4 separate regions of the Homo sapiens genome follow, and regions 1, 2 and 3 are each linked to region 4. Evidence: fine-mapped QTL for protein levels in blood plasma. A gene starts in region 4. Each other region holds a variant in brackets. All regions are shown on one strand. Distances are between the middles of the regions. Region 1 overlaps SEC14L5 (SEC14 like lipid binding 5). Region 2 overlaps SEC14L5 (SEC14 like lipid binding 5). Region 3 overlaps SEC14L5 (SEC14 like lipid binding 5). Region 4 holds the start of NAGPA (N-acetylglucosamine-1-phosphodiester alpha-N-acetylglucosaminidase).

Evidence for each region. PIP is the posterior inclusion probability: the model's chance that the variant is causal. The UK Biobank Pharma Proteomics Project read protein levels with antibody pairs (Olink). The fine-mapping took linkage between variants from a reference panel, not from the people measured, so its PIPs are less certain.
Region 1: its variant is fine-mapped to the plasma level of the NAGPA protein (UK Biobank, PIP above 0.99).
Region 2: its variant is fine-mapped to the plasma level of the NAGPA protein (UK Biobank, PIP above 0.99).
Region 3: its variant is fine-mapped to the plasma level of the NAGPA protein (UK Biobank, PIP above 0.99).

Annotation. Positions count from the first base shown.
Region 1 is chr16:5,008,654-5,015,341 of GRCh38, reverse strand. SEC14L5 (SEC14 like lipid binding 5) reads right to left here. Exons shown (of 16, transcript NM_014692.2): 15 at 4,069-4,247; 16 at 1-483. The coding sequence ends at 372. Among named protein-coding and RNA genes, the nearest start is that of NAGPA-AS1, 22 kb to the left of the region's middle. RefSeq lists enhancers at 3,659-4,182, 4,183-4,706. The variant C/T (reference allele first, on the strand shown) is at 4,230.
Region 2 is chr16:5,016,125-5,024,359 of GRCh38, reverse strand. It overlaps SEC14L5 (SEC14 like lipid binding 5), which reads right to left. Exons shown (of 16, transcript NM_014692.2): 16 at 5,203-8,235. Among named protein-coding and RNA genes, the nearest start is that of NAGPA-AS1, 13 kb to the left of the region's middle. The variant A/G (reference allele first, on the strand shown) is at 4,732.
Region 3 is chr16:4,999,841-5,008,075 of GRCh38, reverse strand. SEC14L5 (SEC14 like lipid binding 5) reads right to left here. Exons shown (of 16, transcript NM_014692.2): 9 at 7,333-7,421; 10 at 7,151-7,221; 11 at 4,503-4,674; 12 at 2,028-2,162; 13 at 590-724. Among named protein-coding and RNA genes, the nearest start is that of NAGPA-AS1, 30 kb to the left of the region's middle. RefSeq lists a silencer at 6,658-6,849. The variant TA/A (reference allele first, on the strand shown) is at 2,512.
Region 4 is chr16:5,030,972-5,038,523 of GRCh38, reverse strand. It overlaps NAGPA (N-acetylglucosamine-1-phosphodiester alpha-N-acetylglucosaminidase), which reads left to right and starts at 4,589. Exons shown (of 10, transcript NM_016256.4): 1 at 4,589-4,695; 2 at 4,796-5,251; 3 at 6,640-6,779. The coding sequence starts at 4,610. It overlaps NAGPA-AS1 (NAGPA antisense RNA 1), which reads right to left and starts at 4,822. Exons shown (of 2, transcript NR_038913.1): 1 at 4,463-4,822. RefSeq lists enhancers at 4,478-4,657, 4,851-5,352.

The sequences.
Region 1 (6,688 bases), 23 kb after region 4:
CACCTGATAGTGATGGTCCCCTGCATGGCGAAAGCAGAGCAAGAGGTGGACAGAGAGGAGATGGGCCTGGCTGACGTCGCTAAGCCCGGATGTCCCAAAGGTGTGGTATGGTAGACACCTTGGCCTTGGCTTGGTCTTCCTTACACGAAGCCGGAAGGAGATGGTTCTGTCCTTGCAATTTCAAGAGCCCTGACACCACCCACAGGCCAGTTCTGGATCCTTGCCATCCGCTCCAGACACCCCAACTTGGGCAGCATCTAGGCCTGGGGCTCCAGCCCACATGGTCCCAGGCCCTGCAGTTAGCTGGCTTCTCATTCTGGACATTTCTGGACACTGGAGGCGAGCGGGCGGCCCTGAAACACTGGGCCCGGCTATCTGGAGACCAGGGAGCTGCTATGAGACTGGCCGGAGGAGGAGGACGAGGTGGCGGCGCTGAGCTGGGAGAAGCCGCTGGTGCAGGATTCCAGGCTGGACATGGAGCCCCTGGGGAGGAAGGGCGTGGCACACGTTACCCTCTCACAGTGACAAGGCCCTTGGGCTGACACACAGCAGTGGAAAAGCTGTTGATGCTGCAAATCAGGCCCCAGGGCCCCAGGCCGATGCAAAGGGAAAAGCAAGTGACGCCATGAAGAGAAAAGCACTACCGAATTCCCCACACTCCCATCTCCCCAGATGGAGCCCAGCCTGCCACAGACCCATCAGGGGCTCCCCTGGCCTGAGGCCCTTGCATGGCCCTAAGGCCGCCACAGCCCAGGGAGTCCCCGGCCCTGTCTCCAGTCTCACTCCCTCCTTACTCTTTGCACTCAAATTCCATGGTCCTCCTCCTAGCTCTTGCAGTGGCCTTCGTGTGCGCTGAGCCTGAGGCAGAAGCCCATTCTCTCCTCCCCCAGCTGTCTGGTTAACTCCTACTCCAAACCTCAGGGCAGCGCCATCCTCGAGAACTTTCTTTTCTTGTATAGAGACGGGGCTCTCACTATGCTGCCCAGGCTGGTCTCAAACTCCTGGGATCAGGAGATCCTCGTGACTCGGCCTCCCAAAGCACTTGGATTACAGGCGTGAGGCACCATGCCCACCCTCCAAGAACTTCCTGCGATGAACGTGCTGTACACCTGCACAGTCCAACACACCAGCCACTGGCCACATGGGCTGCTCATCACTTGAAATGTGGCCCATGCGACTGAGGCACTGAATTGTTCCTTTTATTTCATTCTCCTTGCTAAGTTAAATTGCTGCAGGTGACTAGCAGCGACCAGATAGGACAGTGCAGCTTTAGGGCCTTGCTACTCAAAGCATGGTCTGGGAACTGGCAGCACCAGCAGTGCCCGGAGCTTGTTAGAGATGCAGAACCTCGCCAGGTGCCATGGCTTACGCCTGTCATCCCAACACTTTGAAAGGCTGAGGCAGGGGGATCGCTTGAGGCCAGGAGTTTGAGACCAGCCTGGGCAAAATAGTGAGACCCCATCTCTACAAAAAATTTTAAAAGTGGCCAGGCACAGTGGCTCATGCCTGTAATCCCAGCCCTTTGGGAGGCCGAAGTGGGTGGATTGCTTGAGGCCAGGAGTTCGACACCAGCCTGGCTAACATGGCGAAACCTGTCTCCACTAAAAATATAAAAATTAGCCAGGGGTGGTGGTACGCACCTGTAATCCCAGCTACTCAGGAGGCTGAGGCATGAGGATTGCTTGAACCCAGGAGGCGGAGGTTGCAGTGAGTAGATATCGTGCCACTGTACTCCAGCCTGGGTGACAGAGTGAAACCCTGTCTCCAAAAAAAAAAAAAAAAAAAAAAAAAGCCAGGCAAGCTAGCCCATGCCTATAGTCCCAGCTACTTGGGAAGCTGAGGTTGGAGGATTGCTTGAGCCCGGGAGTTCAAGGCTACAGTAAGCTAGGATTGCACCACTGCACTCCAGCCTGGGTAACAGAGCGAGACTCTGTCTCCAAAAATAAATAAATAAAAAGACCCCCTGGTGACTTGTGTGACCACCACACTACTTAGATCTCAGTCCAGTGTCACGTTCCATATTACTTCCCCCACCCTCTCTCCCAACCCTAGGCCAGGCCCGTCCTGTGCTCTGGCAAGGCTCTAGGTTACGTCCCTGAGCACCTCCTGGCTGGGTGGCTGATACGGTTTGGCTCTATGGCCCAAGTAAATCTCATCTCAAATTGTAATCCCCAAGTGTTGAGGGAGGGATCTGGTGGGAGGTGATTGGATCATGGGGGCAGTTTCCCCCATGGTCTTCTTGCGATAGTGAATGAGTTCTCATGAGGTCTGATGGTGTAAAAGTGTGTGGCTTCCTCTGCTCTCTCTCTCTCCTGACCCTTTGCCTTCCGCCATGATAGTAAGTTTCCTGAGGCTTCCCCAGTCATGCAGAACCGTGAGTCAATTAAACCTCCTTTCTTTATAAATTACCCAGTCTCAGGTAGGTTTTTTTTTTTTCCTTTTTCTTTTTGAGACAGTCTCGCTCTGTCGCCAAGGCTGAAGTGCAGTGGCGCGATCTCAGCTCACTGCAATCTCCACCTCCTGGGTTCAAGGCATTCTCCTGCTTCAGCCTCCTGAGTAGCTGGGATTATAGGCATGCCCGGCTAATTTTTGTATTTTTAGTAAAGACGGGGTTTCGCCATGTTGGCTAGGCTGGTCTCAAACTCTTGACCACAGATGATCCACCCACCTCGGCTTCCCAAAGTGCTGGGATTACAGGCGTGAGCCACCACACCCGGCCTCAGGTAGTTCTTTCTCACAGTGTGGAAACGGACTAACACAGTGGCCTTGGCCATGGCATCCATCGCTGCCCATAGTTATACTTGGGTGTGAGCCTTTGGTCTCTGCTTCATGATGGCAGACCCTATCTGTGTGGTCCCCCCACGATCCGAGCCACCACCTGCCCCCTGAGGGCGACCAGGAAACAGCCTTTGAACTGATTTTCTCATGAGGCTACAAGAGGACAGGGCAGTAAGGTCCTCTCATGGTGACCACCCTTGACAGGTTGGTGTGCAGCGTCTGGCCCAGCCCACCCCTCTGGCCTCCACATGCCCGGCCTCAGAATCAGCCCTCCCAGAGACAACCTTCCAATGCCTGTGTCTATTCCTCTGTGTCCCCCTGGGCCTCAGCCTGTCGCCTCACACTGAGGACCGATGGCCAAAACATGCAGCTTCACAAAGAGTGAATCGCCAGCCCCCTGACAAACTATGGGACCCCTCCTTGGATAAAGACTCTGCCCCAGTGTTCTTCACTCTGGGTGCCCATGCTCCTGGGATCCTTGGAGCTCCACCTGGAATTTGAGGTCTAGACTCAGCACCTTCCTTGAGCCTTAATTTTACCCCCACGGGAAAGAATTTAAAGCATCATTTTTAGATGAAAACCAGTGCAGATCCATCATGAAGCAGGGTGCAAAATCATAAGTGCTTTTACAGAATGCAAAACCTTGAAGAAACTGCCTGCTCCGCCTCCAGACCTTCTCCTTCATTTCTGCTGTGGCATGCACACCGCATGCCCAGGTGACAGGCAGCTTCCCCCAGCCATCTCATCCTCATGACAAACCCACAAGACTGGGGCTCCAGTGGTTCCCATTTAAGGGATGAAGCACCTGAGGCTCAAAGAGGAAAAGTGATTTGCCCGAGGTCACACAGCAACCAGGAAGTGCTGGAGGTCTTAACCATTACAGTTCCCTGTCTCTCTGAAAGCAACAACTTGGGGAGGGTTGTCTAAAAAGCACCCTTTTAGAATATTCTAAAATATTCCCATGGAATTCTAGGAGTGAGGGGAAGCCCACATGGAAGGGTTTAAGACTCCCCTTCTCCTCCCCTCCAACTGCTCCAAAAAGTTGAGCTTCTGCCCAAGGTTTCATTTGAAGGAAAATCCCTGCTTCGGAAGCAGAGTTAGACGCGCAGAGCTGGGCTCTCCTCACACCCTAGTGCGGGGCTGTGTCACCTGAGAACTCCAACCATACCCATGCTGGGGTCCCACCCCGGGAGAAGCTGACCCAGCTGGGAGACAGGAGGCCAGGCATCTGCATTGTCAATCAGCCCCAGGGTCCTTCCTGCCCAGGACCCCGCTCCGGAGCCCTCCTACCTGAAGTCCTCAGAGGCGAGCACCTCACAGTAGTAGAGAAGTTTGCACTTGGGCCCGGGGCTGTGCAGAGCCGTCAGGACATCGTCCACACCCGGGAGGCTGCAGGCCACGCTGCTGGGGGGGCTGTGCATTTGCCACTGGAGCAGGTAGACGCCGGGCCA[C/T]CGGGTCACATGGGAGCCCTGAAACACATCAGCCCTGCCCTGAGGCCCTGCGCCCTCCAGAGGACAGGTCAAGGAGGCTGAGCCTTCATGGGCTTCTCATCACCAGGCCTGGAAATTGGGGCTCTTCTCCCTCTGTCCCTTTCTCCAGTCCACCAGCAACTCCTCCTGTCAGGGCCTCTGGAAGCCATCCTTGCTATTATCCCCATATCCCTGGGACCAGAGCCTCCCTCTTAATCTGGGGAGGAGCTGACGCCTGGGGGTGGGGGTGCAACTTCAGGACAACAGAGGTGCTTAAACACCTGGATTTTGTGGGGCTTTTGCTCTGCTGAGTGGGATTTGCAAACCAAGGGGATTAGGAAAGGGATTTGGGCCGGGAGCTCACAGGTGCTTAGAGAGAATTTGTGGAGGGATCAGGGAGAGTGAGAAAGGGAAGTGTTTGTTTTTACAAGAAGAGCCACTTTGGGTTGCTCTGGGTTGAGAAGTTCAGTGGGACCCAGCAGTGGCTGTGAGGGACATGCAGGACGGCCCTCCACCCTCTCCCCACCGGGAACTTCGGTGAGATCGACAGCAACTGCCAGTGCTCGTGGAGCTGGTGCTGCGTGTGTGCATGTGTCATTTCGGGAGTCAGAGAGTGACATTCCACCTGCAATGCCAGCCTCCTGGAGAATGTGGGGATCAACAGGGGCAGCTCATATTCCAGTTACACGTTCAAGTTCTGTTCCAAGACTACAGTTTTGTTTTTTTTTTCTGAGACGGAGTTTCACTCTTTCACTCAGACTAGAGTATAATGGCATGATCTCAGCTCACTGCAACCTCTGCCTCCTAGGTTCAAGCGATTCTCCTGCCTTAGCCTCCCGAGTAGCTGGGATTACAGGCACCCGCCACCACACCTCGCTTTTTTTTTTTTTTTTTTTTTTTTTTTTTGTATTTTTAGTAGAGACGGAGTTTCACCATGTTGGCCAGGCTGGTCTCGAACTCCTGACTTCAGATGATTCACCTGCCTCGGCCTCCCAGAGTGCTGGGATTATAGGCATGAGCCACCGCACCCGGCCCAAGACCTACAGTTTCTTTTGCATCAGTTCTGAAACCACAGTGCACATCAGAAATCTGACTACTGACCTCAGGACCTTAGCACCTCCCCTTCTATCCAAACTAACTTCCAACCCCTCCCCAGCACTCAAGCTACCCTCGTGTCCACCTGCCTTCTCCCTGCGGCTTCAATTTTGTTCTTTCTGTTCCTTCCACCTGGAACATCATCCCCTCTCACCCCCTCCCAGATCCAGCCACAACTCAAGGTCTTCGTCCATACTGAAGCCACTTGAATGTATGCAGGCAACCTGAACTTCAAATTCCAATATGCTCATCCTTCCCCCTGCTTGAGTTAATGCAGTGGGTTGAACAGTGTACCCCCAAAATTCATGTCCAGCCAGAACCTCAGAACGTGACCTTATCTGGAAATAGAGTCTTTGTGGTTAAGGATTTAGGGTGAGGCCAGCCATGGTGGCTCACGCCTCTAATCCCAGCACTTTGGGAGGCTGAAGCAGGAGGATCGCTTGAGCTCAGGCATTCAAGATCATCCTGGGCAACATAGCAAGACCCCATCTCTACAAAAAATACAAAAGTTAGTTGGACATGGTGGCGGGAACCTGTAGTCCCAGCTACTCAGAAGGCTGAGATGGGAGGATCGCTTGAGCCTAGGAGGTAGAGGCTGTAGTGAGCTGTGATCATATCACTACATTCCCAGTCCCGCAAAAGTTTCCTGATCATGGATAGAGTGAGACCCTGTCTCAAAAAAAAACAGGATTTAAGATGGGGCCTAACTGTGATGGCTAGTGTCCTTACAGGAGAGAGGGGAGGGAGATTTGAGACTCAGAAGAGAGACAGACAGAGAAGAAACCCCTTTAAAGACAGAGGCAGAGATTGGGGTGATGCATCTACCCACCAATGACACCCAGGATTGCCAGGAGTTACCTAAGGCTAGGACAGAGGCATAGAATGAACCCCTCCCTACAGCCTTCAGAGGGAGCGTGGCCCTGCCAACACCTTGGTTTTGGACTTGTGAACTCCTGAACTGTGAGACAATAAATTTTTGTTGTTTTAGGCCATGTAGTTTGTGGTAACTCATTACTGCAGCCCCAAGAAACAAATACAGTTGGATCCTGTTAGAAGTCCCATTTCCCAGATGGGGAAACTCAGGTTCCAGACCCTGTGCTCCTCCCCAAGACACCAGCCACCTCTCAGCAGAGCACCCCGTGCTTTCTCGATTTTGCACCGGCTGCCATTGGGCAGGTGAGCACTTCATTACATGAGACCCTGTGTGTCTTTCCTCTGCCCTGTCCTGCAGGGTCCCTGAGGCTGGGGACCAGCAGCCCAGTATGTCCTCCGCTGTATCCCCAGAAGCCTGGCACGCAGTGGACACTCAGTGCTGCTTGGTGAGCGAATGAGTGGTCCAGAAAATG
Region 2 (8,235 bases), 15 kb after region 4:
CAACCTCCTGCCATGGCCTCCCAAAGTGCTGAGATTACAGGTTCGAGCCACTGCGCCTGGCCCCTGACCATAATTTGAATGACCAGGGCTTAGTTTTTCCTCACAGTATTTTTATAGAATTTAAATTAGTTACCCATGTTTAAAAGTCAAGAGATTTTAAAATAAATAAGGGCGGGGGTGCAGTGGCTCACGCCTGTAATCCCAGCACTTTGGGAGGCTGAGGTGGGCGGATCACCTGAGGTCAGGAGTTCGAGACTAGCCTGGCCAACATGGCAAAACCCCGTCTCTACTAAAAATACAAAACAGGCATGGTGGTGGGAGCCTGTAATCCAGTTACTCAGGAGGCTGAGGCAGGAGAATCGCTTGAACCCGGAAGGTGGAGGTTGCAGTGAACTGAGATCGCACCGCTGCACTCCAGCCTGGGCAACAGAGCAAGACTCCATCTCAAAAAGTCCAGAGATTGACAAAAATTCCAGCTTGCTGGTTTCTCTTTAAAGATCTGGCAGCCCTGGTGGGCGCCTGCACAAGTCACCAGGCCAGCTCAGATTCAGGGAGAAGGGAAACGGGCTCTGCCTCTTAAAAAGGAGCTGCAAAGTCAGGCGCCTTAGAGTCATTCAGGTGTATTCCTAAGAGCAGTTCCCAAGCCTGGCTGCAGATCCTGGAATCTACAGGGATCACTCTCAGTCTGACGCCACGGCCACGATGATGGCCATGATGACCATCCTGAAATGACCCTTGGCCTGAGAACCATGACCTCTGAGGGGACATCTCTGTTGTGCTGGCGGCTAAGTTGGAAAAGTGACAGTCCTGTGCACTGGAATCCAGGCCCAGAGGCAGCAGTACCTGAAGAGGGCCTGTCACAGCAAAGTTAGAGGGGTCCCAGGTCAGGTGACTCAAACATGCCAAGCGGTGTGAGTCCTGTGGCCCCTGGAATTTTTTTTTTTTTTTTTTTTGAGACAGTCTCATTTTGTTCCCCAGGCTGGAGTGCAATGGTGCAACCTCGGCTCACTGCAACCTCTGCCTCCCGGGTTCAAGCGTTTCTCATGCCTCAACCTCCCAAGTAGCTGGGATTTCAGGCATGCACCACCATGCCTGGCTAATTTTTGTATTTTTAGTAGAGGCGGGGTTTCACTATGTTGGCCAGGCTGGTCTCGAACCCTTGGCCTAAAGTGATCCACCCGCCTGGGCCTCCCAAAGTGCTGGGATTACAGGTATGAGCTGCCGCACCCAGCCTGTAATTTCTTTTTAATTTGTCATTGTGTTATTGATTTTCTTTGCCTGCCCGACATCCAGTCTCTCTTCTAGCAACAGCCCTGTCTTAGGCTAGGATTCCCCAGATGCAGAAACTAAGACAAGGAGGTGAGAGCAAGTACTTTATTGGGGAGGCGGCCCCAGGAAGCACTGGTAGAGGACAGGGAGGGAAGGCAGCCTGTGCAGAGTGCAGGAGTGAGCAAGTCTATACTGTAGGCAACAGGGGCTCAATCCTGCTGGGGGCCTCTGGGACAGTTGGTAGAACAGGTCTTGGTTGCACCACACAAGGGCGAGGAAGCTGGGGTATTTATCAGCCAACACCCATTCATCATTGGTTGAGGGCCGCTCCTGGGGGTTGACTCCCTGGCAGTGCCAGTCTGCCCTACCCAGAGACCGAATGTGCCCTGGCAACCACAGGGAGCTGTGGGAAAGTTGCAACATCTTGTGACCTGAAGCCTTCCATGGTAATGAGAGTGCCCGGGGAGGTGGCCACTTCTGCCTCCTGCTCCACGTCCTATCTAAGGTCTGCCGTCCAAAATCTAAATGCCTGAGCCCCAAAATGTGCCTCTCCTGTAACAGTACAAGTGTCACACGTTTTGGGTTGCCGGAGACCCCAAAACCCAGGAGCCCTGGCTGTGAGCCTCTAGCGTGTTGCTATCAGGGTAGTACCTCTCCCCCATTCTCCATCCAGGTGGTTTGGGTGGCACTGTCTTCTCACCCCAAGTTGCAGGTGGGCCTGAGAGATTGGTCCAGAGTTAGGCACCTGCCCCGGGTCAGCCCGTCAGAGCCCATCGTGGAACTTCTGCTGCAGCTGGAAGAAGAAACTCTCTCTGCTGGGACTGTCTAACTTCCAAGGTTAGACACAAGGAGGGCCACAAGGTGGGCCAAGGTGGGCCACAAGGAGGAGGAACGGAAACCAACTCTTCTCCAGTGTGGAGAAGACCTGATCAGAACCAAGAGATGGAGCGGGTGAGCCAGTGTGGAAAACGACTAGACTGAGGGTGTTGGGGTGGGGGTGGGGGGACATGATTTGAATGCCTGGATCCAGCTATACCTGAAGCCAGCCAGATCATTCTTGGACTTCCGAATTACATGAACCCATAAATTCCCATTTTTTGCTTGAGGCAATTTGTATTGGGTTTTGGGGTCTCCGGCAACCCAAACGTGTGACACTTGTATTGTTACAGGAGAGGCACATTTTGGGACTCAGGCATTTAGATTTTGGACGGCAGACCTTAGATAGGACATGGAGCAGGAGGCAGAAGTGTCTGAGATTCCAGTACCAACCTATGGTGCTGGTGGGGACACAAATATACAAGAGCTAAAGTCATCAAACTGCAGGCAAGCCGGCTGGGGATTCATGTGCTCCGATCCCAGCAGCATAAGGGTCCCCTCCCCCACCCACAGTAGTGACTCAAGACCCCCAGGCACAGGCACGGTGGTCTTGGACTGCACACTGAAGTCTCTGCAGCTCAACTGGGAACCCTGAGAGTTCCACATGCTGGGCCATCGCCATGGTGACACGTCTCAGCTTCTGGGGTGCTCTGCACAGAACTTTAGTATTCGGAAAGACCCCAGAAAGGTTCCCATCCTGGCGTCAATGGGTGGGCTTTCAAGGACTCTTTGGGGCCCCAAAACAAATGAAATTCGTGTGTGTGTCCTGAGTTCTCATGGGATTCTCCAAGCAGTCTGTGTCCGGAAAAAAAAAAAAATCCTGGCTTAGAGGTTTCAAATTGTGCTTTTTGCCAGCTTGGGCAACATGGCCCCGCCGCTACAAAAAAATACAAGAATTAGGCATGGTGGCGCACACCTGTGGTTCCAGCTACTTGGGGCTGAGGTGGGAGGGTCGCTTGAGCCCGGCAGGTTGAGGCTACAGTGAACCATGATCATGCCACCGCACTCCAGCCTGGGTGACAGAGTGAGACCCTGTCTCAAAAAAAAATGTGACTTTTGGGGATCCGCATTCCTCCAAAATGCCTTGTTGGGGGCTGGGCACTAAGGGAGGCAGGGAAGTGAGAGGGAGAAGTTGGTAGCCACAGCCTCTGACATCCCTGGAGGCCCTGGGCTCCCTTCCTCCCAGGCCCTACCCCAGCTCCCACTGCAGCTGCTTGCGTCCAACCTGGCTCCGCAGAGGTCCCAGGGGTCTGTGCCCCAAGAACTGATCCCAGAGGCAGCCTCTGGGCCACAGGGAGCCCTGGGCATGTTTTGCTCGCTCTGGGTCCAGGCCCCAGGAGGCCTCCAAGGAAAGCGCTGTGGCTGAGACAGGCATCAGCAGGGCCCCACAGCTCAGGCCTGATCCCAGCTCCCGCCCACCCTCCGGAGCTCCATCTTCCCCCACAGGGCTGTTCTTTCTCGATACCCGCCGCACCCACGAGTCAGCTGGCTGTTCCTTTGAAACCCGCCACCCACAGTTCCAGAGAAATCCACGGAAGAGTCACCGCCCATGAACACACGCAAGTGCAAGCCGCCTCCTCTCCCCTGACGAGCTGTGCTGGGCAGGGCTGGGGAGCAGAAGCTGGGTGGACAGATGGCCCTCGTGCCATCACACAAAACACCACACCTGCTCTGCTCTCACAAATGACAACCCCAGCCACCAGCTCCAAAACGACGAAGGCTTTTCAGAGTCCCAGGATCTGTGTGGCAGCCAGCTCCACTCTCCGTGCCCCAAGAGAGCTCACGGGAAGGACAGGTGGCACCCTGGACAGGGTTCATCACAACCTTCTGACGTCAGGACTGTGGCTGTTTTGGGATGCAGCTCTCCAGGACACCAGGTCTGGCACTTTGGTAAAACCCCAGGGGGAGGGCAGGGCAGCCCAGGAGAGATGGGCACCAGGGATTTTCATATCTGTTTAATGCAGATATAACTGTGTATCTGGTTAGCTATTGTATGCATACATAATAAGTTGAGTAGCATGCCCCAAAATTCATGTCCATCCGGAACCTTAAAATGTGACCTCGCTTGGAAGTAAGATCTTTGCAGGTGGAATTAGTTAAGGATCTCAAGACGTTATACTGGACTTAGGATGGGTCCTAAATCCAATGACTGGCATCCCTACAAGAAGAGGAGACACAGAGAGAGAGGAAGGCCATATGATGATGGAGGCAGAGACTGGAGTGATGCAACCACAAGCCACGAGGTGCCACTAGACACTGGAAGAGGCAAGGAAGGGTCCTCCCCTACAGCCTTCAGAAGGAGCAGGGCCCTACCTCCATGGTGATTCCGGACTTCCAGCCTCCAGAACATTCCTGTTGTTGTTGTTGCTGTTGTTGTTGTTTTGAGACGGAGTCTCACTCTGTCACCCAGGCTGGAGTGCAGTGACATAATCTTGGCTCACTGCAAGCTCCGCCTCCCGGGTTCACGGCATTCTCCTGCCTCAGCCTCCCGAGTAGCTAGGACTACAGGCGCCCGCCACCATGCCCGGCTAATTTTTTGTATTTTTTAGTAGAGACGGGGTTTCACCATGTTAGCCAGATGGTCTC[A/G]ATCTCCTGACCTTGTGATCCACCCGCCTCGGCCTCCCAAAGTGCTGGGATTACAGGCGTGAGCCACTGCGCCTGGCCTATTTCTGCTTTATATATAAAAATTGTGATCCTCCCTCACACGGCCCAATAACCAATCTTGAGAACCTTAACTAATTACACCTGCAAAAACCTTATTTCCAAATGAGGTCACATTCTAAGGTTCTAGGTGGACATGAATTTGGGGACATGCTATCCAATCCATTACATATGTATACAATATATATGATACACAATTATACCTGCATTAAACAGATATGCAGCCCCTTGGGGGTGATATCACTCCGGTTGCAAATGCTCTAAAGCAAGGGTGTCCAATCTTTTGGCTTCCCTGGACCACATTGGAACAAGAAGAATTGTCTTGGGCCACACATAAAATACACTAATGATAGCTGATGAGCTGAAAAAACAAAGAAAACACACACACAAAAAACCTCAGTATTTTAAGAAAGTTTACGAACTCGTGTTGGAGCACATTCAAAGCAGTCCGGGGCCGCGTGCAGCCTGCAGGCCACAGGCTGAACAAGCTAGCTCTAAAGTCTTTTAAACAACAGCTGGAAAGTTCTTGAACGAGCCCACGGGAAACCTCCAGGGTTTTAGGAAGCTGACGATGCAAGTTTATCCAAATGGAAAACATTTAATGCTGCTGGTTGGAGCAAGTGATCAGGCAAACAAAAAAACCCATCGTGTTTCACTGGCTCAAAGAGACTTTGTTGAAAACAATTATACTATTCTCATTGGACAATAAATTTTACAGCAGGGAGGGGGAATTCCAGAGAGTGCAGGGTAGAAAAAAAGAGTCTCAAACTCTCCATACTTCAACCTCTGGGAAAAAACATTTTCTAACTGCCAAGGGAAATACCACTCAGAATACACTCCCTCAGATGGGTGGACTTACCCAGAAAACACAAGCAGCTTCTTTCTTCTTTTTTTGAGACAGGGTCTTGCTTTGTCACCCAGGATGAAGTACAGGGGTGAGATCATGGCTCACTCCAGCCTTGACCTCCAAGCAATCCTTCTGCCTCAGCCTCCCGAGCAGCTGAGACTATAGGCACGCACCACCACGCCTGGCTCATTTTTTAATTTTTTGTAGAGACAGGGTCTCACTATGTTGCCCAGGCTGGTCTTGAACTCCTGCACTCAAGCGATCAGCCGGCCTCAGCCTCCCAAAGTGTTGGGATTATAGGCATGAGCCACCACGCCCCGCCCACACAAGCAGTTTCTAAAAGAGAAAGACTGCACACCCAACTCAGAGGGCAATAATTCTTGACACCTACTTTTCTCTGGGTGCAATAACGAAAAACAGGGATAGGCGACCTCAGGAAGAAAACGAGTCTTTGGATGCGAAGCATTAAGTAATCAGAATGACCACTGACATTAATGGAGCGCTTTCTGTGTTCTGGGAGCTGTGCTGAAAGCTTTACAGCTACTCCCTCATTTCGTCCCACTACAACCTATTGAGGTAGGCACTGCTATCCTCACTTTACAGATGAGGAAACTGAGGCACAGAGAGGTTAAGTCACCTGGTCAAGGTTACACAGCTAGTGAAAGGAAGGCTGGGGTTTGAGTCCTGGCCTAAATTCAAGGCCCAGGTGCCCAAACACCAACAGTAATGCTGCTTGTGGGTTGCTTCTGTCCTGGTCACAATGGATTAATGAACTAATGATGCAAGAAGCCCAAGCCAAGGCACTTCCAGCCTTTGTGGCTCAGGGGAAATTCAAAAGCCAAAAGCTTGGCAATCCCTTCCTTGGATTATTTTTAATTCCAGTCCTCCCGAAGGCAAGAAGAATGACCTTGATAATGCTTCCACGTGGGTCCCCGAGACCTCCACATGGGAGGAGAGCCGGCCGTAGCAGATGCCACCATGGATACCTGCTGGTTCTGTGGTCCAGCTTCTCTTGTCCATTGGGGGAATGGCCCTCCCCAATCCTGCTGCGGCTTCTGCAGGGAATGTCAATCACGGGACCCTAGTTCCTTGCCAGTGTGGCCCACAGGAATAAGCATGTGACTCGAGCTGGGCCAATCAGAGCCTTCCATGAGATTTGAGATGGAAAAGCATCTCTTAGAGTGTGAATCCTGAAATTATAGGCTTGGGGCTGCTGGCAGCCATCTTTCCCGCCAGGTGGAAGAAAGAATGAGGTCAGCATGCAAAGAGATGCAGAGTCAAGAGGCCTGGGTGCAGTTGAGAGGCCTGAGGACATTAAGCTCCTGGATCCAGCCATATCTGAAGCAGCACCCACCTTCAGCCATCCCTAGTACAGGACCCAGGGAATTTGCTTTGTTGCTTAAGCCAGTTTGGGCTGGTTTTCCCTAGGGAGAGAGCACTCTCAAGAGCAGAACTGAAAGGGCCTGAGGTTCCTCACCCCCACTGTTAAGGGTGGACAGCTGATAGCAGACTCCCCTCCCCCCACCCGCCTCTGGAACAGGCAGTTCCAGCTTCCTTCCGTAAAAGGCTTCTGTGTCCTTCTCTGGGGCTAGACAATAAATGTATAAAGACTGCCAGGGCAGCTTATCCCAGCATACTTGTAGGATAACACCTAGTTTTTAAGAGAAAAGCTAGAAATTCACTTAAAGATAGTTGAAAATATTGCAAGTTGCTCTCAGCAATAAATGCCTGGTGATATGGGAGCAATTAGTTTTGAGAACGTCTCCTTCCAATCAGTCGGTCTCTTATGCACACATGTGCACACACACCTTGACGCAGAGTGCAAAGCAATCTATTTTGTTCAGATACCTGAGAAGCGGACAGAGAGCCAACAGGAAGGTGGGCAAGGCTCTCTCCCAGCAGGAAGAAGGATGTATCTGAAAAGATGACACTTTCTCTCTTCCTTGGGTTTGGGGTTGAGGCTGGCGTAGATATAAGTTTCCTGGCCCTGCATTGCTGAGCCTGCATAAAGATGATTCTTGTGGCCACAAAACCACCCCTTGGCTCAGTTACTGCAGCAGAGATGAGCCCCAACTCTAAGCAAGGCCAGGAGACAAGGGTACCAGCCACTGCTGACAGAGCCATGTCAGTGAGACTCCTGCCACGCAGGTCATGAGGATGTGTAATGTGGGCTGGGCGCAAGTCAATGGGGTAGGGACTGGCGTGGCCACATCCAGGGGTGCAGAGGTGTTGTCTTCATGCAACAATAGTGACCCCATTCTGCTGGTGCTCCCAAATGCCTAAGGGAAGCCAGAAATCCTGATTTCGATGCGAAATGCCTCAATTTTTAAACCATTCTAAAGGCAAAAAAGCAACACTAAAAGCAGGCCAGATCAGGCTTCAAGTTGGTGACCCCTGACTGGCTGCCTTTTGGGGAGTCCAGGAAAGGAAAGGAGAAATGTCCTCAGGCCCCAAGGAGACCCAAGACGCTCCTGTGTAGTAACTAGGGGAACTCATGTCAATATTGAACCTAGTTCCAGAGTCATATCTGCCCCAGGGCAAACACAGCAGCCTCCACTCGCGGGGGGAATCGAGACTCCATG
Region 3 (8,235 bases), 31 kb after region 4:
AATAGCCAGGCATGCTGGCTGGCACCTGTAATCCCAGCTACTCGGGAGGCTGAGGCAGAAGAATCACTTGAACCTGGGAGGCAGAAGTTGCAGTGAGCCAACATTGCGCCACTGCACTCCAGCCTTGGTGACAGAGTGAGACTCGGTCTCAAAAAAAAAAAAAAAAAAGAGGCCAGGCGCCGTGGCTCCCGCCTATAATCCCAGAACTTTGGGAGGCCTAGGCGGGCGGATCACCTGACCTCAGGATTTCAAGACCAGCCTGACCAACATGACGAAAACCCGTCTCTACTAAAAATACAAAAATTAGCTGGACGCAGTGGCATATGTCTATAATCCCAGCTACTCGGGAGGCTGAGGCATGAGAATTGCTTGAACCTGGGAGGTGGAGGTTGCAGTGAGCCAAGATTGCACCACTGCACTCCAGCCTGGGCAACAGAGCGAGACTCCATCCCAAAAAAAAAAAAAAAAAGAAAGAAAGAAAGAAAGAAAAGAAAAAAGAATCCTCATCTCAAGCTGTGTTTTGGGGTCACCTGACCTAAGACGACAGACACTCCAGCTCAGCGGGCCCTCCCCGGCCAGGCCCTGGCACCTCGTGGGGGGCTCCGCGGAGCACGCTGGCTGAATGGTAGGTCTCACTCCACTGCCACAGCTGGTCCGTGTGCTCCTGCTCCTCTTCTGTCATGTAGAGGGACTTGGGGACCAGCCCTCCTTCGGGGACATTACACTGCAGGTCAGAGATAAAGGGCAGCAGGTCAGGGCCAGTTGAGGCCTGGCTGGCCTGACCCACAGAAGGGTGATGTGTGACCCCCAAAGCCACTCATAATTGCAACCCCTTACTGAATGGGCTGTGGGCTTCCATGACCCCATTTAATCCCCAGGTCCACCAATGCAGTAGAGACTATTATTCTTCCCGTTTCACAGAGGAAGGAATGGAGGCTCGGGCAAGTCAGGCCACTCGCCCACGATCACACAGCAGAAAGTGAGTGAGCCAGGGCACAAACCCACGTTCGTCACAGCCCCATGCTCATGTCCCTTTACCCCGGTGCCGGACTGACAGCCAGGCTGGGGGGCCTCTCCACACCGCACCCCATAGCAGCTGCCTCTCCCCGTCACAGGCGGGGGTGGAACAGTCACTGCACCGTGCTCATCGAGAGATTTCCCCAAACCAAAGGCACCCTAGATGGCCAGGCCTTGGCAGAACTCCCCCTGCCACCACCAAACAATGATTACCCCCACCCCGTTTCACTTGTAGAAACACTGGGATTAGCAGGACACTGTTCAGTGTCTTTCCATAAGCCACTCTCAGATCTGCAGAACCGTTTGCTAAAAATAAGTCGTGTGTGCCGCACATCACAAACGGAGAGAACAGGCAAGCCTGGAAAAATTCCTAGGAAAAGACTTTTTTAAAATCCAGAAATGACGCAAGCTCACTGTCTGGTATTTCTGTTAGAAACAAAGAGGGCCCGGGCCACTGGGGGCCATATGAGATGACAGAGTTGTGACCTAGGATCACCCCAGCCTGTCATTTCACCCCAGGGGAGGCAATAAAAGGGGCCTGGACACTGCCTCCCTTGAAGGGGGTTCCTGATCGTTTCAGGCTGTGTGGCTGTGGGTTGGAGGCTAGTCCCAGCTCCAGGGTCCAGAGCTGCAGATACATTCGAGTCACCTCCCCTGCAGTGAATGAGCAGGTTAACTCACTGCTGCTTGGCAATGTCTTTGATGGGAATATAGAATGCGTAAGCCTTTGACTGGCCTAATCTTTAGGCTTCCAGAAACTTCTATCTCACTCACTATGTTTGAAGGACCCAGAGTAAGGCCCAACCTCAGAACAGCATCACCTCTCTTTGAAGCAGCTTCTAAAGCAAGCCCTGTGGCTGCTGAGAGCCAGCAAGACCTGCCCTAGGCAGAGTGCACATGCCGCACCCAGCCCCCCTCCACCTCCCAGCCCCACTCCGGGAATCCCAGCCTCCCAGCTAGGCATGCCCCCTCCTCAAGCCCAGGTCTGTCTGTGGACATGGAAGCCTCACCACACTCTCTCCCCCAAGGAAGTCAGGGATCACTTCTCTATCCAGATAGTCCACAAGGCCTCCGGGTCCCTGGTAGTTGCTGCCACTGTAGATGAGGAACTTCCGCCTGGTGTTCTCATTGATGAAGGGGCTGATCTGAAACCAGGACATAAGGCAAGATGGATGGTTTTTTTTTTTTTTTTTTTGAGACGGAGTCTTGCTCAGTCGCCCAGGCTGGAGTGCAGTGGCATGATCTTGGCTCACTGCAAGCTCCACCTCCCGGGTTCACGCCATCCTCCTGCCTCAGCCTCCCGAGTAGCTGGGACTACAGGCACCCACCACCATGCCCGGCTAATTTTTTTTTGTATTTTTAGTACAGACGGGGTTTCACCATGTTAGCCAGGATGGTCTCGATCTCCTGACCTCGTGATCCACCTGCCTCGGCCTCCCAAAGTGCTGGGATTACAGGTGTGAGCCACCACGCCTGACCATGGATGTATTTTTT[TA/A]TTGAGATATAATTTATACAACATAGAATTAATCATTATAAAGTGCACAGTTCAGTGGCTTTCAGTGCACTCACTAGCTTGTGCAGCCAGCACCTCTACCTAGACATGTTCATCACCCCAGAAGGAAACCCCATTCCCACCCCACCGTCACTTCCCATCTCCCCTCCCCCAACCCAGGGCAACCACCCATCTACACTCTGTCTCTGTGGATTTGCCTATTCTGGGCGTTTCTTTTTTGTTTTTGTTTCGGAGACAGAGTCTCGCTCTGTCTCCCAGGCTTGAGTGCAATGGCGCAATCTTGGCTCACTGCAAGCTGCACCTCCCAGGTTCAAGTGATTCTCCTGCCTCAGCCTCCCAAGTAGCTGGGATTACAGGCTCCCACCACCATGCCTGGCTAATTTTTGTATTTTAATTTTGTACTTTTGTATTTTCACCATGTTGGCCAGGCTGGTCTTGAACTCCTGACCTCAGGTGATCCACCCACCTCGGCCTCTCAAAGTACTGGGATTACAGGCGTGAGCCACCTCGCCCAGCCCTATTCTGCACATTTCATATAAAGGAGATCACACAGTACATGGACTTCCGTGTCTGGCCCCTTTCACTGAGCATCAGGTTTTCGAGGTCCCTCCGTGTTGGAGGATCAGTGCTTCCTTCCTTCTTATGGACGAATGCTATTCCATTACATGGATGGAACAGTATTCCACAGTTTGTTTATTCCAGATGGAATCCATTTTAACACTGAGCTCTAAGCCACATGTTGATAAAGAAGGAAGGAAGTGGGAGAGAGAGAAAGAAGGAAGGAGCCCTTGGCATGGCAGATAACAGGCCAGTTCTACAGGGAATGCCACAAGCCAAGAGATAGGTGAGGAAACTGCAATCCCCCCGTGCAGGGCCCTCTCCTGTCCCCAGCCCCACTGCGCTCTGTGCTGTGCTGGGCCCCAGGAGGCTGAGGCTGACCCCCAGTAGCTCCCTGCCCCCACCCCTGTCCCAGCTTTCCCCAGGATTCTGCAAGGACATTCCCTCCTCTTGGGGGTGGCCAGGCTTACTGCAGTCACTGGTGCTTGGGGTCTCTCCTTCCCCTGCCCACACCTCTGCAAGGAGCCCCTTCAGGACACCCCTCATTTGAACCATCTGGGTGAGGTCCACTTCCAGCCAGGACCCCGGCTGATGTGCTCGCACTCCCAAAACCACCCCAAACAGCAGGTGGACTTAATTTTCCCGGAGATTAGGACAATTCAGGATAAAAAGCTTCAGAAGCAGCTCCTGCCCCCTAGCCTCACCTGAACAGAGCCTTGAAGCACCCACAAAAGCTAGAGAACTTCCTGGCCCCTAAGTCTGTCCCCCACCCTCCCCTGCTACTGAACCCTCCATGGGTCCCTATTGCCCCTGTACATCTTCCAGCCTCCTCAGGTGCTGTCGTCCCTTTTGCTCTTTTTTGCTCAGCCACCCTGGACTGTTTCTTCAGTTCCTCCAAAGCATCAAGCTGGGTCCAGCCTCCAGGCTTTTGCCCACACTATGCAAGTGGCTGGCTGCACCCTTGTTTCAGAGGAGTGTGTGTGTGGGCGTGGGTGTATGTGTGCGCGCACATGGGTGCATGCACGCGTGTACCCACCGGGTTACAATATAGAGTATATTTCAGGTCAGGCGCAGTGGCTCACACCTATAACACAAACACTTTGGGAAGCCAAGGCAAGAGGACCGCTTGAGCCCAGGAATTTGAGACCCACGATAATGGGCATGGGGGTTCTTTTTGGGGCGACAGAAATGTTCTGGGATTGGCTAGTGGTGACAATTGCTTAACTCAGTGAATACAGGAAAGACCACTGGAGTCTATACTTAAAAAGTGTGAGCTTTATGCTATGTGAGTTTCATCTCCAAAAAGTTACTAAATGAAATGAAACAGGAAAAGAGAGCAGAGCTGCTTGCAGACGGAACCCCTCCCATCCCACCCACCCCCAGGGAGAGTCCTGGCCCAGGCTCCAGCTCTTACCAGTGTCCAGAGCACGGGGAAGACTCGGGGGGCTCGCACGATGAGCAGCCGACCCAGGGTCTCTGGGTAATTGTCCTCAACCACCTCAATCATCCGCAGCAGGGCCTTCACCCCCGGCCGCCACAGGTGCCGCATGTTGAGTCCCTCCAGGTCTAGCAGGCAGGTCCAGGAGCTGTGGCAGAAATAGCCCCAGCTCCACCTGGCTCTGCTGCCTCCCAAGGCCACCAACACCCTCCCCACAGGGGATGAACAGGGAGGCTCCGAGAGATAGGGCTGGGAGCAGATGGGGGCTCCTGCCACAGTAGGGAGCCCATGCGATGAAGAGGATCAGACTGTGGACTTCAGGGCTGAGCGCCCAAATTCAAGTCTCACCTGCACCCCTGAGAGCCTTAGGTCAGGGCACAGACCCACTTACTCATAGGACAGTGGCAAAGGTAGTAACAGTCCTCATCTGAAGCAACTGCTGTTAGGATCAAGTGAGATGGTATATACAAAGCTCTCTGCAAGGACGGGCACACCACATGCCCTCAATTATAGCTGGTTATCACAAGTGGCCATTTAGGCCTAGCATTCCATTATTGCAATGCTAAGCGTGTGGGAGTTATTTCTATCCTACTGCTCAAGGTCATCACCAAGGTCTGATTGCAAAAATTCAAAACATTGCAACCTCAGGCATAAATGAGTTAATTGTTGAAAAGATGCTAACTACTAAATAGAGCAGAGGTGCTGAGAGCATGCACTCCACAGTCAGATGGCCAAGGTTCAAATCCCAGTTCTGCCACTTGCTGTGTGATCTTGGTCAAGTCCTGAACCTCTCTGTGCCTCCATTTCATTAGTATTCATTCATTAGGAAAATAACTGTTTGACTGCAGCGGCTGGTGCCCGGGAGCCTCCACCTCCCAGATTTGTTCGCTTAAACCTGCACACACCTCTCCAAAGCATCCCTTCATGACACTCCCTCATTTGAGCCATCTGGGGTGAATTATGCTTCCGGCCAGGACACTAATGGATTGATTCCCACTTCCACCCCAACATACGTGTCCTTAGAAAATCTCTAGAGACCAGCCTGGCCAACATGGTGAAACCCCATCTCTACTAAAAATACAAAAATTAGCCAGGCGTGGTGGCAGGCACCTGTAATCCCAGCTACCTGGGAGGCTGAGGCACGAGAATCACTTGAACCCAGGAGGTGGAGGTTGGAGTGAGCCAAGATTGCACCACTGTACTCCAGCCTGGGCGACAGAACGAGACTCTGTCAAAAAAAAAAAAAAAAAATCTGCAAACAGCAAAGGAACTTTAATTTTCACAAAGATCGGGATATTTGGGGCTGAAAAGCTGAAGCAGCAGCTCCTGCCTGCCCGTGTCTCACAGGGCTGTTTAGGAGGAGGAAATGAATCAAGGTGCTTAGAAGGGCACCTGCTACATAGCAAGTGCAAGATCCGTGTTTGCATTATTTTTAAACCCTTATTATTTTTGAGAATCCATTTGTAAAAGCCACTTTACAGGCTGGGAACAGAGGCTGACGCCTGTAATCCCAACCCTTTGGAAGGCCAAGGTGGGAGGATCACTTCAGCCCAGGAGTTTTAGACCAGCCTGAGCAACAGGGTGAGACCTCATCTCTGCAAAAAAAAAAATTAGCTGGGCAAGGTGGTGCACATTTATAGTCCCCGCTGCTTGGGAGGCTGAGGTGGGAGGACTGCTTGAGCCCAGCAGGTCAAGGCCGCAGTGAGCTGTGATTGCACCACTGCACTCCAGCTTGGGTGACAGAGTGAGAGCCTGTCTCAAAGGAAAAAAAAAAGCCACTTTACAGAAGAGGAAGCTGCTGCTCAGAAAGGTTTGCTGCCTTTGGGGGCGATGCCACCGTAAGTACTGGCTCCGGGAAACAGTTCAGGAACAGAAATGCGGGGGAGTCAGAGGACAGTGGGTTCCTGCAGAGGACACTGGGTTCCTGGATGTGCCATGACAGAGCCAAGGGAGAACTCGTGGTGGAGAGCTGATCTCAAAAAGCAAAGTCAGGCTGTGAGTGGTGGCTCACGCCTGTAATCCCAGCACTTTGGGAGGCCGAGGCAGGCGGATCACGAGGTCAGGAGACCGAGACCATTCTGGCTAACACAGTGAAACCCTGTCTCTACTAAAAATACAAAAAAATTAGTCAGGCGTGGTGGCGGGTGCCTGTAGTCCCAGCTACTCTGGAGGCTGAGGCAGGAGAATCGCTTGAACCCGGAAGGCAGAGCTTGCAGTGAACTGAGATTGCACCGCTGCACTCCAGCCTGGGCGACAGAGCGAGACTCCGTTTCAAAAAAGAAAAAAAAAAAAAAAAAAAGCAAAGTCAAGGAGACTGTTGAGTGGAGTGGGAGGATAAAGTCTTCGAGCTAGAAGCCAGACAGGACCCCAGGTTCAAATCCAGCTCTGTCCTGACCGGCTCACAAGCTTCGATGGGGGCCACCATTCTGAATCTCAGTTTCCCCATGCATAGAAAACGGGGATGCTTACGGGCCCTGCCTCAAGGCCCAGAAGACCACTGTAGAAACTGGGGGAGAATGAAGCCCCTGGCACGCTGCCCAGCCCAGCACATATGCACAGTGGACCCCTCTCCACCCTCCGTCTTTGCTGTTTAGGGGGGATTTGTGCCCAGCCCAGGTGTTTGCCTGATGGGACGGCCCAGCTGCCTTGTGCTCCCCTCACACCGCTTCTGTCCTTCCTCGTTGACGGAGAGAACCTGGAAGGGAGAGACAGTGCTGCTCAACGTCCGCCTCGCTGCTTTACCCCACACAGTCCTTCCCAGGCCCGGCCCCAGGCACGGCGTCCAGGAACGAGGCCCCTGACTCACATGCCGCAGCAGCGCCTCCTCCCCCACGGCCTTCATCAAGCCTTTGGTGTCCATCTGGCCCAGGCGGAGGATGTAGAGGGGGCGGCCATCTTTGTGGATGGGGCCAAGCAGAAAGAAGAGCCCGTTATTTAGAGGACTGCTTCCGAGGGGCAGGTCACAGCTGCAGGTGAGAGCTTCACCTCCTCAGGCTGCAACCCACCAAGGCCCGATCCAGCCTTCACTTACTAACACCCTGCCTGCTTCCAAGAGGGGCTGACGCCCCTTATTGTGAAAGGCAGAAAAACAGAAGTGTTACAATGAGGATAAGGGCCAGCACAGTGGCTCACACCTATTACCCCAGCATTTTGGGGGGCAGAGGCAGGAGGATTGCTTGAACACAGGAGTTTTGAGACCAGCCTGGGCAACATAATGAGACCTCTTCTCTACAAAACATTTTTATTTATGTATTTATTTGAGACAGAGTCTTGCTCTGTCACCCAGGCTGGAGTGCAGTGGTGCGATCTCGGCTCACTGTAACCTCGGCCTCCCAGGTTCAAGCAATTTTCCTGCCTCAGCCTCCCGAGTAGCTGGGATTACAGGCGCCCACCACCGCACCCGGCTAATTTTCGTATTTTTAGTAGAAATGGGGTTTCACCATCTTGGCCAGGCTGGTCTCAAACTCCTGACCTCAGGTGTACACCCACCTCAGCCTCCCAAAGTGTTGGGATCACAGGCATGAGCCACCGCAGCTGGCCCCATAATACTTTTTGTCAACCAATCAATATATAACCTTGTTTTATGTGGTGTTTTTTGTCTGTTGGTTTGTTAGTTGGTTGATTTGTTGGTTTTTGAGACAGAGTCTCACTGTATCACCCAGGCTGGAGTTCAGTGGAGCAATCTCAGCTCACTGCAACCTCTGCCTCC
Region 4 (7,552 bases):
GAGGCAGGAGAATGGCATGAACCTGGGAGGCGGAGCTTGCAGTGAGCTGAGATGGCGCCACTGCACTCCAACCTGGGCGGCAGAGCGAGACTCCGTCTCAAAAAAAAAAAAAGATTCCCCAAGGTTGTCCCTTGTTCTGTGAAGCCTCCTCCCCTCCTCACACCTACTTGCCCATCTCATTCCCTACACTGCTCTGTGGCAGCTCACTCTGGCTTCGTTTGTGTGCTTGTCAACTCTATTTTCAGATTGTGAATGACTTTAGGGCACAGACGATGTCTTGCTCCTCTTCAGGTGCCTGGCTCCTACTATACAGCCTGGAACATAGAAATGTTTAAAAAATATTTGCTGAATTAAATAGAAAAAATGAAGAAAAAGAAAAAAGAGGCACCTGGAGATGTTTTGTCCAGGTCTTAGCTGGTGGAAGGGACCTTGGGCTGTGAGCGTGCTTGAGTCTGGTCTGCCCAGCTGGCAGCCCCCACACCACCCTGCAAGTCCACATGGGATGAGGGGCACCCCTAATGTACCCAACTGGACGTGGGGGCCACCTACCAGACACGCAGCCTATGACAGAATCTCCTGCCCCTCAGAACCTCAACGCCAGTTTCTGGGATGCTGTTAATGCCCTCCCAGCCCTTTACACAACAGATACTATACACAGCACGGACAGAAGAAATTGATCCTTTGACGTTTCCATTTCCTAAGAGTTTTACAAAAATGACTTTCGGGCCGGGCACAGTGGCTCACGCCTATAATCCTAACACTTTGGGAGGCCAACGGGGGTGGATCACTTGAGGTCAGGAGTTCAAGACCAGCCTGGCCAATATGGTGAAACCCTGTGTCTATTAAAAATACAAAAATTAGCCGGGCGTGTTGGCACACCCCGGTAATCCCAGCTACTCAGGAGGCTGAGGCAGGAGAATCGCTTGAACCTGGGAGGCTGAGGTTGCAGTGAGCCAAGATCAGGCCATTTCAATCTACACTCGAGCTTAGGCAACAGAGTGAGACTCCATCTAAAAATAAATAAATAAACTAGCCTGGTGTGGTAGTACACACCTGTAGTCCCAGCTACTCAGGAGGCTGAGGTGGGAGGACTGCTTGAGCCCAAGAAGTCGAGGCTGCAGTGAGCGATGATTGCACCACTGTACTCCAGTCTGGGCAACAGAATGGGATCCTGTCTCTAAATAATAATAGAATTACATAACAAAACTTTTTTGGGTGATAAAAAAAATCCTAAAACTGGATAATGGTGATGCTGGAATATCGCTGTGCATTTACTACAAATCATTGCATTGTACACTTAGGAGAATTTTACAGTATGTAAATTTTATCTTAATAAAGTTTAAAAAAAAACCTTCCAATGGCTTACTATTTCACTTTGGCTGAAATCCATACTCATTTCCCTGGATCCCTGCATGTACGATCTGGCCTTGCCTTGGCCCTCCCACTTCAACCCTGCTCACCACCTCCAACCCCTCCCCCACGGCCCTCCTCTCCCACCAGGTGGCTCTTCCTGCTGCACCTCCCAAGCTGTTTCCCACTTCAGGCTCTGGCCCAGATCTGCACACAGCCGCATCTTTTCTTTCCTTCAATCACAGTCTAAAGGGGCTTGGAGAGGCTTCCCTGCCACACCTGCAACATCCTTCTCTCGCAGTCCTGCCCTTTGCTTCTTGCATTCATCACATAACTGTTTCATGTCTGTTTCCCCTTGAAAAGCTAAGCTCCATGAAGGCAGGGATCAGCTGCAACGGAGCACATACGAGGTGCTCAGCCTGTTGAACACACAAATGATGGTAGAACTCAAATGAGGATGCTAAGAGGGGACAAAAGTATTCCAGGCTGAAGAGCAAAAAAGAAAACCCTTGGCTTCTTAGCAGCTTTGGCTAGAACTGTGGATATGGGCTGCTCTGTTCAAATGCAGAATTTCTGTGGCACCCGTTATGTGCTTAGAAAAACTTGGCAAAGGAGTAGCAAACCTCAAAGTAGGGAGAAAACCAAAGTCAGAACTTGCCAAAGACTGCCTGTTCCTGCAACTCCTAACTGAGGCAGAAAAAAAGAGCGCTTCCGGAGGCAGGGAGTAGGCGTCAGGCCTGGGCTCCTCTGCTGGTTATTTTTAGCAGCCCAATGCAAAGCTCAGAAAGATATACTCCCTTCACATCAATATATTGGTCATTTAAGCCTCTAGGAGGAGCAGTCATTTTGTACATGGTTAAAGTGAACTAGGAGCGTCAGAGCTGTTCCCGGGACCCCTTTGAGGTCCCTGAATTGTATTAGTTTCCAAAAGCAAGGCATCAGCATGGCCATGTTCTCTGTCAAAGCTCAAGAGTCTCTCCCACGCCTCTCTCCTAGCTCTTGGTGGCTGCTAGCCTTCTTTGCATTCTTTGACTTATGACTGCATCAGTCCAATCTCTGCCTGTGTTCATATGAGCTTCTTTCCTCTGTGTGTATTTGTGTCTTTTACAAGAACACCAGTCAGATTGGATTCAGGGCCCACCCTACTCCAGAATGACCTCATCTTAACTAATTACATCTGCAAAGACCCAATTTCCAAACAAGTTCACATTCTGAGGTTCTGGTAAGGACATGAGTTTGGGGGGACACTCTCTAACTGAGTTCACTAACCCTCACCGTGGACTGGCTCAAAGGAGCAGTGGCTCAAAGAGGGGCCTGAGATCAAGCACCAGAAGTGCTGACTGTGGATGAAAAGGGGCTGGCCTGGCCCCTATCTGTGTCCCCCCATACCTGTGGTAGTGAGGGAGAAGGAAAAGAAAAATCCGTTGGGGAAAATTCTGACCTCAGAAGTGGCCTGCCTGAAAAGTCATAGAAACTGGCAAAAATAAAGCAACCTGGGAAAAAACTCAGGCTGGACCTGCACGGAGATAAGCAGACAGGGTCCAGCGCAGAAGCCCTTTGTTCTTTGCATAATTAGCAGGCTCCCGGGAAAAAGTTTCCTCTCCTTTTCAGGCATATACACAGTGGGCTCCATGGAAACCGGCACAGGGAGGAGGGGGCCTTATCTAAAACAAACCCACAGTTACACAAACAAGAGAAGCAGCGATTTGCACTTGCCTAGAGACATACCCACAGCTGCATAACATAAGGGGAGCTGCACAGGCAGTTTTACTGGTAAGAAGTTACTCAGTTACCAGGAGGAGAGCAGTGTCCTATAAAAGTTTTTTGCGGCCAGGCACAGTGGCTCACGCCTGTAATCCCAGCACTTTGGGAGGCGGAAGGAGGCGGATCACCTGAGGTCAGGAGTTTGAAACCAGCCTGGCCAACATGGTAAAATTTCGTCTCTACCCAAAATACAAAAATTAGCAGGGCGCAGTGACGTGTGCCTGTAATCCCAGCTACTCGGGAGGCTGAGGCAGGAGAATCATTTGAACCCAGGAGGCAGAGGTTGTTGAGGTTGCAGTGAGCCAAGATCGCACCATTGCACTCCAGCCTGGGTGACAAGAGCAAAACTCTGTCTTAAAAAAAAAAAAAAAAAAAGCTTTTTGCATTCAGCTGTAACCCGACAATCCACTCGGACTCCCGTCTCCACTTTGGAGAGCTTTCTTCTTTCCCTTATTAAACGTTCGCTCCAACCCCACCCTTGTGTCCACGCTCCTTAGTTTTCTTGGAGGTAGGACAAAGAACCCCGGGACTAGTTCAGACAAGGAGAAACTGCTATATTAAGGTGCACTGGCAAGACCGCAACAGTATCAAGCCAATTAGACTTGCCGTGGCTCCTGGAATGGCCCACGCACTGCACTGGCACCAAGACACCACCCAACCCTGGACACTGCACTGGGACAGGAGGCCTGAAGAGAAGAATCCTCTCAAAGGAAGCTTGAAGTACATGCTACAAAATAAACTGGCTTCTATACTCAGGGCCAGCTTCATGGGCTCACTCAGAAGGTCCCTGGCTTGCTGCAACCATTTGCTCTGACCATCTTGAAATTCTTAATAGTTTTCTGGGTTTTTTAGTAAGTGTCCCCACGTTTTCATTTTGCATTGAGTCACACAAATCATGTAGCTGGGCTGTCTTCAAAAATGTCAAGGTAGTAAAAGACAAAAGGCTGAGGAGCCTTCCAGATGAAGAGATCAAAGAGACATGACAACTAAAAGCAACTCCTGGGTTACAGGGTCAGGGGCGGACAAAAAGGAAAAGAAAAAAAAAGACATTAGAGGGACAATTGAAGGTTAGCTGTGGATGACATCACAGAAATGTCAATGGGAGTTGTCCTAATGATATTTGCCCTGTGGTTAAGAAAATGCCCTTGTTCTTAGGAGATTCATGGCGAGGTATGGGGTAAAGGATCATGACATCTGCAATTTGGTTGCCATTGGTTCAGGAAAAAAAAAAAACAAAGTACAAATGATTGAGTAAATCAGGCAAGCCTAAACCACTGCTAAACATGAATAACAGTTCTACGAGAGTTCTTTATGCTCTCCTTGCAACTTCCTGTAGGTTTGAGATTACCTGGAGATAAAAAGTTAACATCACCAGCACCGCCCGCCAGCCCGCCAGCCGAAAAGAGCGCAGGTAATTCAGTCCGAGCTGAAAGCGGCCACCCTGGGACTTGAGTCACGTGAGGCGAGCCCACATGACCCGAGGCCCCGGTCCAATATGGCGACCTCCACGGGTCGCTGGCTTCTCCTCCGGCTTGCACTATTCGGCTTCCTCTGGGAAGCGTCCGGCGGCCTCGACTCGGGGTGAGTGCAGCTCCCTGGGCCAGCCTGGTTCGGGGGGTCCCCCCTGTCCTCCGAGCTCACGAGGACAGCCCCCTGAGCTCACGGCCGCCCGTCCCCGCAGGGCCTCCCGCGACGACGACTTGCTACTGCCCTATCCACGCGCGCGCGCGCGCCTCCCCCGGGACTGCACACGGGTGCGCGCCGGCAACCGCGAGCACGAGAGTTGGCCTCCGCCTCCCGCGACTCCCGGCGCCGGCGGTCTGGCCGTGCGCACCTTCGTGTCGCACTTCAGGGACCGCGCGGTGGCCGGCCACCTGACGCGGGCCGTTGAGCCCCTGCGCACCTTCTCGGTGCTGGAGCCCGGTGGACCCGGCGGCTGCGCGGCGAGACGACGCGCCACCGTGGAGGAGACGGCGCGGGCGGCCGACTGCCGTGTCGCCCAGAACGGCGGCTTCTTCCGCATGAACTCGGGCGAGTGCCTGGGGAACGTGGTGAGCGACGAGCGGCGGGTGAGCAGCTCCGGGGGGCTGCAGAACGCGCAGTTCGGGATCCGCCGCGACGGGACCCTGGTCACCGGGTGAGGAGGCAGGGAGCCCCGTGCTGTCGAGGGCAGAGGGCCTGAGATTTGGGTTGTAGCCGTGCCTCCGTGTTCAAGTCACTTAACCAAGCTGAGCCCCTGTTTCCTCCTCTGCAGAATGGGGATAGGAATCGCTTCCTTGCAGAGTTTATTCATCATCCAGTATCATTGAGCACTTGCTTGTATCAGGCAATGTGCCGCGCCCCGGTGAGATAGCCGTGAACAACACAGTCTTTGCCTTAACAGCCCTCCCCCATTACTAGAAAAATCAACAAAAGCCGGGTAAATAGCTAACATACATTCTGATTGCTGTGTGTGCAGCAAAGCAACCAACGGGGTGAACCCGTTGTAAATAGTGTTGATTTTAGGGAGGGTGATCTGGAACACGCCTCTCCGAGGTGACCTTTGAGTGGGAACTTGAAGATGAATCACTAAGTGAGCCAAGGTCAGAACTGGAGGAAGAGCGTTTCAGTCCAAAGGAACCCCACGCACAAAGGCTCAGAGGCTCAGGGGGGCTTGTGTGTATGAGGGACTGAAAAAGGAGTGGGGTGTCAGAAACATCAACTCATCAAGACTGATGATTTTTTTTTTTTTGAGACAGAGTCTTGCTCTGTTGCCCAGGATGGAGGGCAGTGGCATGATACCGGCTCACTGCAACCTCTGCCTCCCGGGTTCAAGCGATTCTCCTGCCTCAGCCTCTGGAGTAGCTGGGACTACGGACGTGTGCCACCACGCCCGGCTGATTTTTGTATTTTTAGTAGAGACGGGATGGGGTGGGGAACGGGGGAGTGGGTTCACCATATTGGCCTGGCCGGTCTCGAACTCCTGACCTCAAGTGATCCACCCACCTCAGCCTCCCAAAGTGCTGGGATGACAGGTGTGAGCCACCACGCCCTGGCAAGATTGATGATTTGAATTATTTAAAATTATCTTAAAAATTATTTGAGTCTCAAAAAAAAAGTATTTGTTGATGATAAAGCTTGTTCTGATCCTGAGTGGGACCAGGTGGGAGAGAGCAGTGGAGAAACAAGGAAGCCAATGAAGGGCCGTAACAGGGATCAAGTGGTAGTTGGGCTGGGTATGGCCTGGGGATTGAGGGCCATAGATGGATTTGAGCTCTGTTGGGGGATGGTCATTTCTGTTAAATGAAACAGACTGTTTGCAAAGGCTTGTGGGGATTGTATTGTCAGAACCCTGTCCAGCTTCAGCTCTGACAACAGGGAGATTCCTAGGGCTGTTAAGTTGTCCCAGCTACACTCAGGCCCCAGGAGGTTCCTGGGGCATGAGGGGGAATCTAGCAGCCAGGTTGGGATGGCTAGGGAGAAAGAGCCTGACTATCTGCAGTTGCCCCTGCTGGTGAGTGAGCTTCCCACCTTCCCCGGATCCAGGTACCTGTCTGAGGAGGAGGTGCTGGACACTGAGAACCCATTTGTGCAGCTGCTGAGTGGGGTCGTGTGGCTGATTCGTAATGGAAGCATCTACATCAACGAGAGCCAAGCCACAGAGTGTGACGAGACACAGGAGACAGGTTGGATGGGGAGGCTGTTGGCAACAACCCTCTCGAGAACCAGGACCAGTGGGCTGGGCGGAGCTGTTCTTAAGTCTTTCAACAAGTATTGAGCAGCTACTTTGTGCCCAGCACTATTCTGGGTACTGGGGATTCATGGGGAGGAAGATAGGCTTATATTGAATATATAGGACAAAAAATAGTTATAGAATATGCTGAAAAGAATTGATAAGTGCTCAGAAACAAAAATAAAGTTAGGGGAAAGGGGAGAGATGGGGACCGGAGCTGTGGGTACAGGAAGAGAAAAGTGAAGAGAAAAAAATCTTCATGGACCTGCAACATCGGCGTGGCCCAGGAGCTTGTTTCAAAGCCCCACACCCTCAGACCTGCAGAATCAGAGGCAAGGCCCAAGAGTCTATGTTTTAACGGGCCTCCATGGTGACTCTGACCGACACTCAAGGTTGAGAACCACTGGGATGCAGAATACTGGGATGGGGACAGGATACCATGACCATTTTAGAGTGGGCAGTAAGCTAGGTGTGGTGGCTAACACCTATAATCCCAGCACTTTGGGAGGCCGAGGCGGGAGGATCGGTTGAGCCCAGGAGTTCAAGACCTGCCTGGGCAACATAGTGAGACCTATCTCTACAAAAAAAAAAAATACAAAAATTAGCCAGGCATGGTGGTGTGTGCCTGTAGTCCCAGCTACTTGGGAGGCTGAAGCATGAGAATTGCTTGAACCTGGGAGGTGGAGGTTGCAGTGAGCTGAGATCATGCCACTGCACTCCAGCCCG